Linked DNA regions of Homo sapiens: region 1 is reported to be linked to region 2. Evidence: microRNA targets listed by miRTarBase, many of them from high-throughput screens and not tested one by one. Region 2 holds a microRNA gene; the other region holds the end of a gene's coding sequence.
What was found. Region 2 holds the annotated microRNA hsa-miR-8080 (GAAGGACACUGGUGUCAACGGCU, at 1,135-1,157, shown strand). A microRNA usually pairs through its seed, bases 2 to 8, with sites in the 3' UTR of a target mRNA and lowers its output. Matches are read on the target gene's strand: a 7mer-m8 pairs with bases 2 to 8, a 7mer-A1 pairs with bases 2 to 7 and ends in A, and an 8mer does both.

Region 1 (4,334 bases), not on the chromosome of region 2:
TTTGCTTCTGCGCAAGCCAATTCTCCCTCCCCCCTTTCCCACTCAACAGCCATCTCAGATGGATATTGGGGCTCTGATTGTCAATATTACTCAAACACAAATGGATTTCAATTCAATCTTGCCCTGTACTTTCACAAAGATAAACTCTAATGGCCCAAAGAGCTTCATTTCATAGCTTGTGGCATCTGAAATAAATCAGATATCTTCTGTCAGACTAATTTAACATTTTAACAATATTTGATGTGATTTATTTAAAGTCAAATGAAACTGAATGGATTGGCAGAAAACTAGAGGAGGGGGCAGGAGAAGGGCAGCTGGAAGCTTCCAAAAAACAAAAAACAAAAAAGAAAAAAAGGAAGAAAAGAAAAGAACCAAGAGGGGAGAGGAAAGTGTTTTAAGTTTCTAGTAAACATTGTTTAGCAAAAGAATAATAGGAAAGTTGCCCCTTTTCCAAAGAGGGATGGAACTATAATTGTTGCCTTTAGTTGAGAGCTCAGATAAACTGCTGGGACTCATTCTAAAGTGACCCATCACTGCATTCATCTCTTCTTGAACTTTCGGTGAACCTGAGATTAAACAGGGGTGAGCAGCTAAGCAGTTTGTTGTTAGCAGCCTTTTCAACAACCCTTTCAGACTGAGTAAATATTGATCGGTTTGAATCTGATTGCCCCAGAGGAAAACACCACCGCATTTGAATAGCCTCCAAAAGTAAACTTTAAAAGGTGAAACCCAGAGCAGACTTCAGAGCCAAAGCAAGACCTCAACTCAGCCTAGTTTGGGAACACTCTGTATTTGGGGAGTACTGTGGATAAATGTAGAGGAAGTGAGGAAAAAAACATTGGAAAACTAGAATTTTGTATCGCAGTTATCCCAGGTGCCTAACTGAGACCCTTGTTTCCTTTGTAAATGTATCAATAAAATGTTATTTTCAGTTTTCCCACTCTGTGTTGTTTCAGTTACCATTGCTGTCATTTTTCAAGTAGCTAACTGTGCTCCTTAGAGACCAAAGCAGAGAGACCTTGAAATAGGATGTGTTAAGCGCCTTTGATTTAATCGATTGAGACAGCTAAAAAGATACAAATGTTTTCCTTGTTGAAAGGTGTATTAATGTTTCCTAAATGCATTGCTTGTTAACTGATTTATTCCATGACCTAGAGAAAGCTAGAGATGGTTAGCCATAATTTATTGTTCTCTCTTGCTGCTACATTAAAACCAGCATCTTAAAGACTGGAATCTCTGGGATTCCAGTGGATCTCGCCCTGCTTTTAGATATTGAAATGGAGTCAATGGCATGCAAATGACACTTTAACACATTAAAGTATTTGGAAGCCAGCCATCTGTTTTGCTGTGTGGCCCTACACTAATAAACAAAAGATACAGTATAAGGCCAGGCAGGAAATGAAAGAAAGGGTTGACCGTCTTTGAAGTTCTTCTCCATCCACTTGAGTCTTTTACAGGCAACCTCAGAACCCAGCAGCTGAGGGGAGGGCACCCGGTGCCCTTGATATGGCCGCAGCAACTGCACCGCAAAGTTCAGCCTTCTCTTCTTTGACAGGGAAGTGCAGGAATTCTCACAAGTGCCCTAGACGGCCTGCAAATTCCAAATTTTTGTAGGGTTTTTCTCCTCCAGCCCGTCCTTTGTAAAACACCCTTTGGGGAGGAAGGAAGTCATCTGTCTGTGTTTGTTTTCAATGCTGTAAATTTTCTGCTGTACTGTTGGGCTAAATAAAATGCCTCCAAAAATGTGTGAAAGTAAAGGAAAGCAATAAAGAGGCCTGGGAGGAGAGCCACTTTGAACTCTATCATTTGCTGGCTTCCTCTTTTGAGAGCAGATACATACCTTGGTCAGAAACAACTTGGATATTGAAAGACTTCAGGGTAGCTTCCACAAGTTCACCTGGAAGTACCTGTGGAGCCCAGAGAAGAAAATGACTTTTTTTTTCTGGGTTATGTGGCATGGAATTAGAACTGTGGATCCTTTACAGCCATGACGGCTATGAAATCAAAGCTGAGTCTGAAGGGAATAAGATGTGCAACCCAGAGATGGGGAAGAAGGGGTGAAGAGCCGCAGGAAGGGATGGATGTTGACAGGAAGAATGGGGGAAGGGATGCAAGGGTTTACTAAAAACACTCCATTTCAAGGGTGGAATATATCAGAACTCTGCCTGACAATCCAAAAAGAAGGAAGAGGAGTGGAATAAGGGCCCCATCCTCACAACAACTTTATACTGGAGCTAATTAAATGTGAATCTCTTAGCTCTTGGTTCACTGATGTGAGGAAAGACTGACTGAAGACAGTTTTGGCTTTTGAAGGGAGTTCTGTTTATATATACGTCAACATCCAGTTGGAGGTGAAAAGGTTAGCACTTGACCCAGGAAGTATCCATGTTTGTTTCAAAAATAAATCTGCTTCATAAATTTCTTCATCAGTCTTTTTTTCCATTATGAGCTTTGATTATAATAAAGGAGCTGTTATTAACTTTTATTCAAGAAAAGGCCCATCTCTTTGAAAATATTTACCACCCTTCTCCCTTTCCCCTCATGAAATGTGCCAACTTCATAGGAATTAACAAATTGTAGCCCAGCCAAATACACGGATGCTTAAGCATACCTGAAACTTGAGTATATTTATTTATTACAGACATCCTAAGACCCGTAAACTCTGCTCTGGATCATATCACTCCAGGATCTCAGAGCTGTTCATGATTGTACAGGAAATGGGGAATATCATAGGCTCACAAAGGATAACTGATAGAACTCAGTGTGGTACTTTGGGGACATCAAACATTGTGCGACATGCAAAAGACTATTCACGAATAACACAAAATATACATTCATTGTGCCATCCATCACATTAACAATTGAGCTGAAAATACATTATATCCAGCTAAGATAACTGTGGAAGGAAGAAATTGGTTTGAATAATACTTTTAGGTTCTGAATAACCCAGCACAAATTTTAAACAGAGGGTGGCCCGAGAAGAAAGGGGTAGAGATTGGGAAAGACTTAGCACAGGAAGCCGGGTTTCTGAAGTTTGTGCTCTGCAGGGCTTCTTAACTGTAAGAACAAATCAAGGCTACCCTCTGAGGCATCTGATTGGGTTTAAATGAGGGAATTTTTTCTTTCACCTATAAAATTGTACCAGTTTAGAGAGTTTGCCCACCCTGTTTTAGTAACCTAAACATTTCTAGAAAATCTGTATAAAGATAAATCTCTTAGGACAAAGTATTTACAACCAGCAAACTCACACACATGAAAATGACTTAAATTAAGGGATGAATTAATTGTGTAAACATATAGTGCATCTCTTCTTCCTGAGCTCCTGGACTCGCCTTTCGCTATATCCTACTTTCAAGGACAAGGGAGGGGAGAGCTGTACATATAGTTAGATAAAAGATGAGAAGATTCCTTCTGGCATGTTTCTGTTGGCAAAGGGAACTATTTTCCAAAAGGTCATCTGAAAGGAACAGTAGGTTCTGTGAATTCTCCTAAAAGCAGGAGGGATGTTAAGGCCCACCAGAAAATGTATGCTGGCACCCAATCTGGATGAAGGTGTTAACCCCGCACCAAGTCTCTGGTCCAGAATTATCTGCAAATATATTATCCTGGCCAGGAGCTCCCCAGATAGGATTAGAAAGGAAGAAAGAGACTGTAAATGGAAAGAAAGATAAGCTAAGCATGTGCTTTGGGTAAGAAGTCCCAGCCCAAGGAGATGCCTGGGCTGTTGTCTGGGGCTGGAGCCGCCTCAGTGGGAGGTAGTCAGAGTGTCTGAGGTAGAAGACCCCGGGGAAGGAACGCAGGGCGAAGAGCTGGACTTCTCTGAGGATTCCTCGGCCTTCTCGTCGTTTCCTGGCGGGGTGGCCGGAGAGATGGGCAAGAGACCCTCCTTCTCACGTTTCTTTTGCTTCATTCGGCGGTTCTGGAACCAGATCTTCACTTGGGTCTCGTTGAGCTGCAGGGATGCAGCGATCTCCACCCTGCGGGCGCGCGTCAGGTACTTGTTGAAGTGGAACTCCTTCTCCAGTTCCGTGAGCTGCTTGGTAGTGAAGTTGGTGCGCACCGCGTTGGGTTGACCCAGGTAGCCGTACTCTCCAACTTTCCCTGGGGCAAAGTGGGAAGCCATGAGACGGAAATGTAAAAATTTTTAAATCGACTTGAGATTCCCCACACGCTTCATGGCAACACTCAGGTAAAGAAAAGATCAAGAACTCAGCACAAATCGGGCTGTGGAGGGTGAGTGATGAGGTGTAAAGTGTTAACCTGATGTAAACCATTAGCATGGTCAGACCGGTGATTAATGGAGCCTCAAGATATTAACAGAACACTACCGTCAC
Region 2 (4,399 bases):
TTACACATAACTTATTTTCTCAGTGGTTTTCTCTGAAGAATCTAGATGCCAGTTTTAATTTCTTATAATTCAATAAAATATTTTTCCAAAGAAACACCAAGAATGGGGTCTTTCCGTGTAAAGGTAAACTTAAGTTACATGCAGAGTTTGAATCCAGAAGGATCTAAGAAGTCTAAAAGTTCTCACAAAGAATCACGGGGCAGAATCTGTCCAAGGTCCCACAGAAATAAAGGAAATGGAACTAAAGTCTGGATTATGGGCACACACTACTAGTAGATAGATGAGAGATGGAGATGGATGGATGGATAGGATAGATAGACAGATAGATTAGATAGATGATTGATGGATGATTGATAGATAGACAGATAGATAGAATATTGAAGGGACGTAGAAAAAGAAGAAAAAATAAGTTTAGTGAACAGACAATATTGACAATTCAAAATTAATATAAAAATTAAGTCTTTATTTTTGAACAGTCAAGGATTTTGAACAGTCAAGGATCTTTTGTCCTTTCTGGGCAGCTAGAGAAAGGAAAGTGACTCCTATGGCCCAAACAAATACCTTGCTCTCAAACATTTACTGTTCATGGAGGAGTTCAGGACTGCGAGTTGAACAAAGAGCAGAAGATACAGAAGAAAACCCTGGGACACTTTAACCAAGATACACCTGTCTGGGCCCCACCATGAAGAATGTTAAGTACAACTGTGTGAGGAGGGCTATGAGGTCAGATTGGTCTGGATTTGAACCCCAACGATGTCATTGGCAAGCTCTGTGATCCAGGGCAAGCTATTTAACTTCTCCAATCCTCACGTCTTCATTAATAAAATGAGGATAATAATGTCTACACACTATGCACAGATTTTGTGGGAATTAAAGGAGATAAGAAATGCAAAATATCAAATCATACATATTAGCAAAATCATACATTTGCTTAGCAAAATGTATGGCAAGAATTAGGGGCTCATTAAATAGAGACACCAACTTGCTGCATGGGGGAAAAATGCCTTAATAATTTTGAAGATAAAGGTTTTTATCTTACTCTTGGAAAGTCTGTGGATGACAGGGGCTCTGGCAGAACTAGAAAGAAAGCTGCAGAGAGAATACAGGCAGTGGGCTGCCTAGTGATGGCTCTAAGAAGGACACTGGTGTCAACGGCTGAGCCCTTTGATAAGGGGGAGGTTTGGAAGACACTTATGTCCTGGATTGGGAAATGATTTCTAATGAGCTGACATAAAGGGATCCCTCAGAGGCAGCTGTCATACCCTTTCCCATTAAAAATGCCCTCATGATCTTGGACATTACAGCCAGGCATTCTTCTCCCGCTGACCAGGCTGGGCTTATAAACACCAAAGCCAGAACTCTTTGCTAAACCACGTATTTTTGTCCTTAATATTTATAACCAGTGCATAGATAAAGCTGAAAAGACTGACACTTCTAGAGAAGACACTAAAATTTATTCCCAATTTAGTGGGTTAAGAAATTCTTTTCAGAACTTGTCACTTACAACTCTTAAAATCTTGGCCTTTTCGCAGGCCTGTTCAAAATAGCCTGTACCACCATTCCTAAAGCAAGCCTGTCTACTCCTATTATTTAGTCTAGAACTGTGTCATATTGTTTGAGATAGTCATTAAATCAGTGTCTAATTTTCCTGGTTGAAACTGTACTTACTTACTTCAACATAAAAAAGCAGGCTGGCCGCGGTGGCTCACGCCTGTAATCCCAGCACTTCGGGAGGCCGAGGCGGGCGGATCACGAGGTCAGGATTTCGAGACCATCCTGGCTAACACAGTGAAACTCAGTCTCTACTAAAAATACAAAAAATTAGCCAGGCGTGGTGGTGGGTGCCTATAGTCCCAGCTACTCAGGAGGCTGAGGCACCAGAATGGCATGAACCCGGGAGGCGGAGCTTGCAGTGAGCCGAGATCGCGCCACTGCACTCCAGCCTGGGCGACAGTGCGAGACTCCGTCTCAAAATAAATAAACAAATAAATAAATAAAGCAGCCCTATAATTCATTTATTCATTAAATATTTATGCAGAGTCTACCATAAGGTCGGCATCTGGGGATGGGATAGTGTGGAATTGAGGAGTCTGATACATCCCTGCCTGCACTGTGTGTTCTGGTTCCCTGTAGAAAATTGCTGGCTATACCATTACTAGAAATCGTTGCTGTTATGATTATCATTTCTGTTTGGACAGACTGACCCCATTCCAGGGTTTACTATTGTTACCTAAGTTGACTGGATTTTAAGTGACACTGACAAAACTATTTAATGGATCATATGTAAATCTCTTGTTACAGTCTACTTTTACAGTGAAATTTAAAAATAACTATCTTGGAAATAGGAGTTGGCCAAATGCATGAAAGAATGAATGCATGTAAGACCCGCCATCTAACTATTGTACTTATTTAATCAGATACTCTGGTATGGCCATTGGTGTCTCAGCATTATCATACTTTATATTTCTGCCCCATAAAGTTAAGTTGGTCTTCTTGATTAAATTGTGTCTTTCCTTGTCAACAAGGGAAGAAAAAAATGATTTCATCAGAAGCAAAGAATGATTACATGCTAGTGTCATTGATGCTTAAAGCGCATCAATGTGTGTTATACAAATGTGTGTATAAGTGTGTTATACAAAGCACAACAATTTAGTTTATTATATATTTCCAAAGTTATTTTCAGTTTGTACAAAAAAAAATGACACCAGTGTCATTGAGTTCTTCTGATATACAAGATAGTGTTCTAAATGGCTTACGTCTATCTTATTTAGTCCCAAAAAACAGTTCTTTGAATTTGATGGTTTTCTTATTCCCTATGCTTATCCGGTAGAGACTGAAATCGGAGGAGAGGAGTTGTATAACCTGTCAGAAGTCTCACAGCAAGTAAGTGTAGGAGCCTGGATTTGAGCCCAGGTAGTTTGCTCCAGAGCCCATACTCAATTTCTGAGCTATGCTGCATTGATTTTTCAGAAAGGGTGAGTTTCTAAAGCCTTGCCCCATATGATTGGTCTCCAAGTTCTATTCACTGTGCCTCTATATCCTGAGTATCTGTAAAATCTACCTCTTTTTCACAATAAACACTGCCATTGTCTTAGCCAGCTTTTCATTCATTCATTGGCCTAGATAATTTCAACAGTCTCTTTATGTGTTCCTCTTCTAATTCCTTCTCCACACTGCTACCAAAATTATTTTTCTAAATCACTAATCTGAATCAAATTATTAGTACTACTCAGTGGCTCCCCATAACCTATATATAGAGTGCAAACTAATTATCATGTTATCCAAGACTGTCCATAACCTGGATCTCTCTGTTCAACTTTGTTATTGCCTCTCCCCACCTTGCCCACTATGCACCAACAATAGAATCACTGGTGTTTCAAACACTCCAAGACTCCTCTCTTAATCTCATGCCTTTGTTCTTTCCTTGGTTCGTAAAGCTCTTTCTGTAGTTAAAATCTGTTGCCTGACCTGAATCTATCATCTCCCTTCTTATGGTAATAGAACCCTATTTTCCTTCAGTAACATGCTCTTTTCCTGCATAGGCTATCAAATCCAAATTCACCTTTTCTGCTAACACTATGAAAATATGGATGGGCCGCTGAAATATTACTCCTTTCCCAGTTGGCCTGATGTTAAGCTTTGTCAGTAGAGGGTGTTGCATAGACGCTGCCAGAGGAAAGGGTTTGGTTCCTGGTTCTGGTGTGCTCCTTCAACAGGCTCCTGCAGCAGAGGAAGCTTCTCCAGCACCAGGTGGCCAGCAGCTTCCCTCAGTATGCCCCGCTGTGCAATTCTGTAGCAGAATGCCTCCAGCAAGACACCCCTCCATGAACAGCTTTCCTCAACAATCCAAAGGGCAGATTTCTAGCAAGCTCCATTATATTGTGTGGCACCTTAGTGACTCCTTTGTCATCAAGTGACCCAAGGCCACACCCTCCAACAACATCTGGATCTCAGGCCTGGTAGGGTGGGGTCCTCCCTAGAGTGCCCTATGCCAGCCCCAGGGGTAGCAGCTTCTCCTCATATCTGCCATTCCCATATTCCTTAAGAGTTCTTGTCATTTCTTATGAGCTAATCCCTTGTTATTCCAAACTGCTATTAGTGTTAAGAATTATTTAAATGTTCCCTGTTTAAATGACTGAGTGGTTGTGTTGTCATCATTGGACAGAATGATTCATCCCTCAACTCTGTGATGGGGCCAACTCTTTCCACTTATCCCCAACTTTCAGCCCCCAGCTTGGACTTGAGACTCCGACTTATTGAATCTAGGCCCAGCGATAGGTTCGAGGAGAGGCAAACCTCATTTAGTTCAATGAGACCCAATCTTGAGACCTCCCTCTCCCAACCACATCATCCTTTCTCTTATTGTCCTAAATTGTGCAGCCATACAATATGGTTAAAC

Region 1: the mRNA of HOXA1 is a reported target of hsa-miR-8080. Seed matches in the 3' UTR shown: 7mer-m8 at 3,354-3,360.

What each region holds. Positions count from the first base shown.
Region 1 is chr7:27,090,695-27,095,028 of GRCh38, forward strand. HOXA1 (homeobox A1) reads right to left here. Exons shown (of 2, transcript NM_005522.5): 2 at 2,299-4,101. The coding sequence ends at 3,746. Among named protein-coding and RNA genes, the nearest start is that of HOXA1, 3.1 kb to the right of the region's middle. RefSeq lists enhancers at 894-1,804, 3,393-3,893, 3,894-4,334.
Region 2 is chr2:79,863,309-79,867,707 of GRCh38, reverse strand. It overlaps MIR8080 (microRNA 8080), which reads left to right and starts at 1,125; the gene lies at 1,125-1,213. The region is part of intron 4 of CTNNA2 (catenin alpha 2); the gene reads right to left.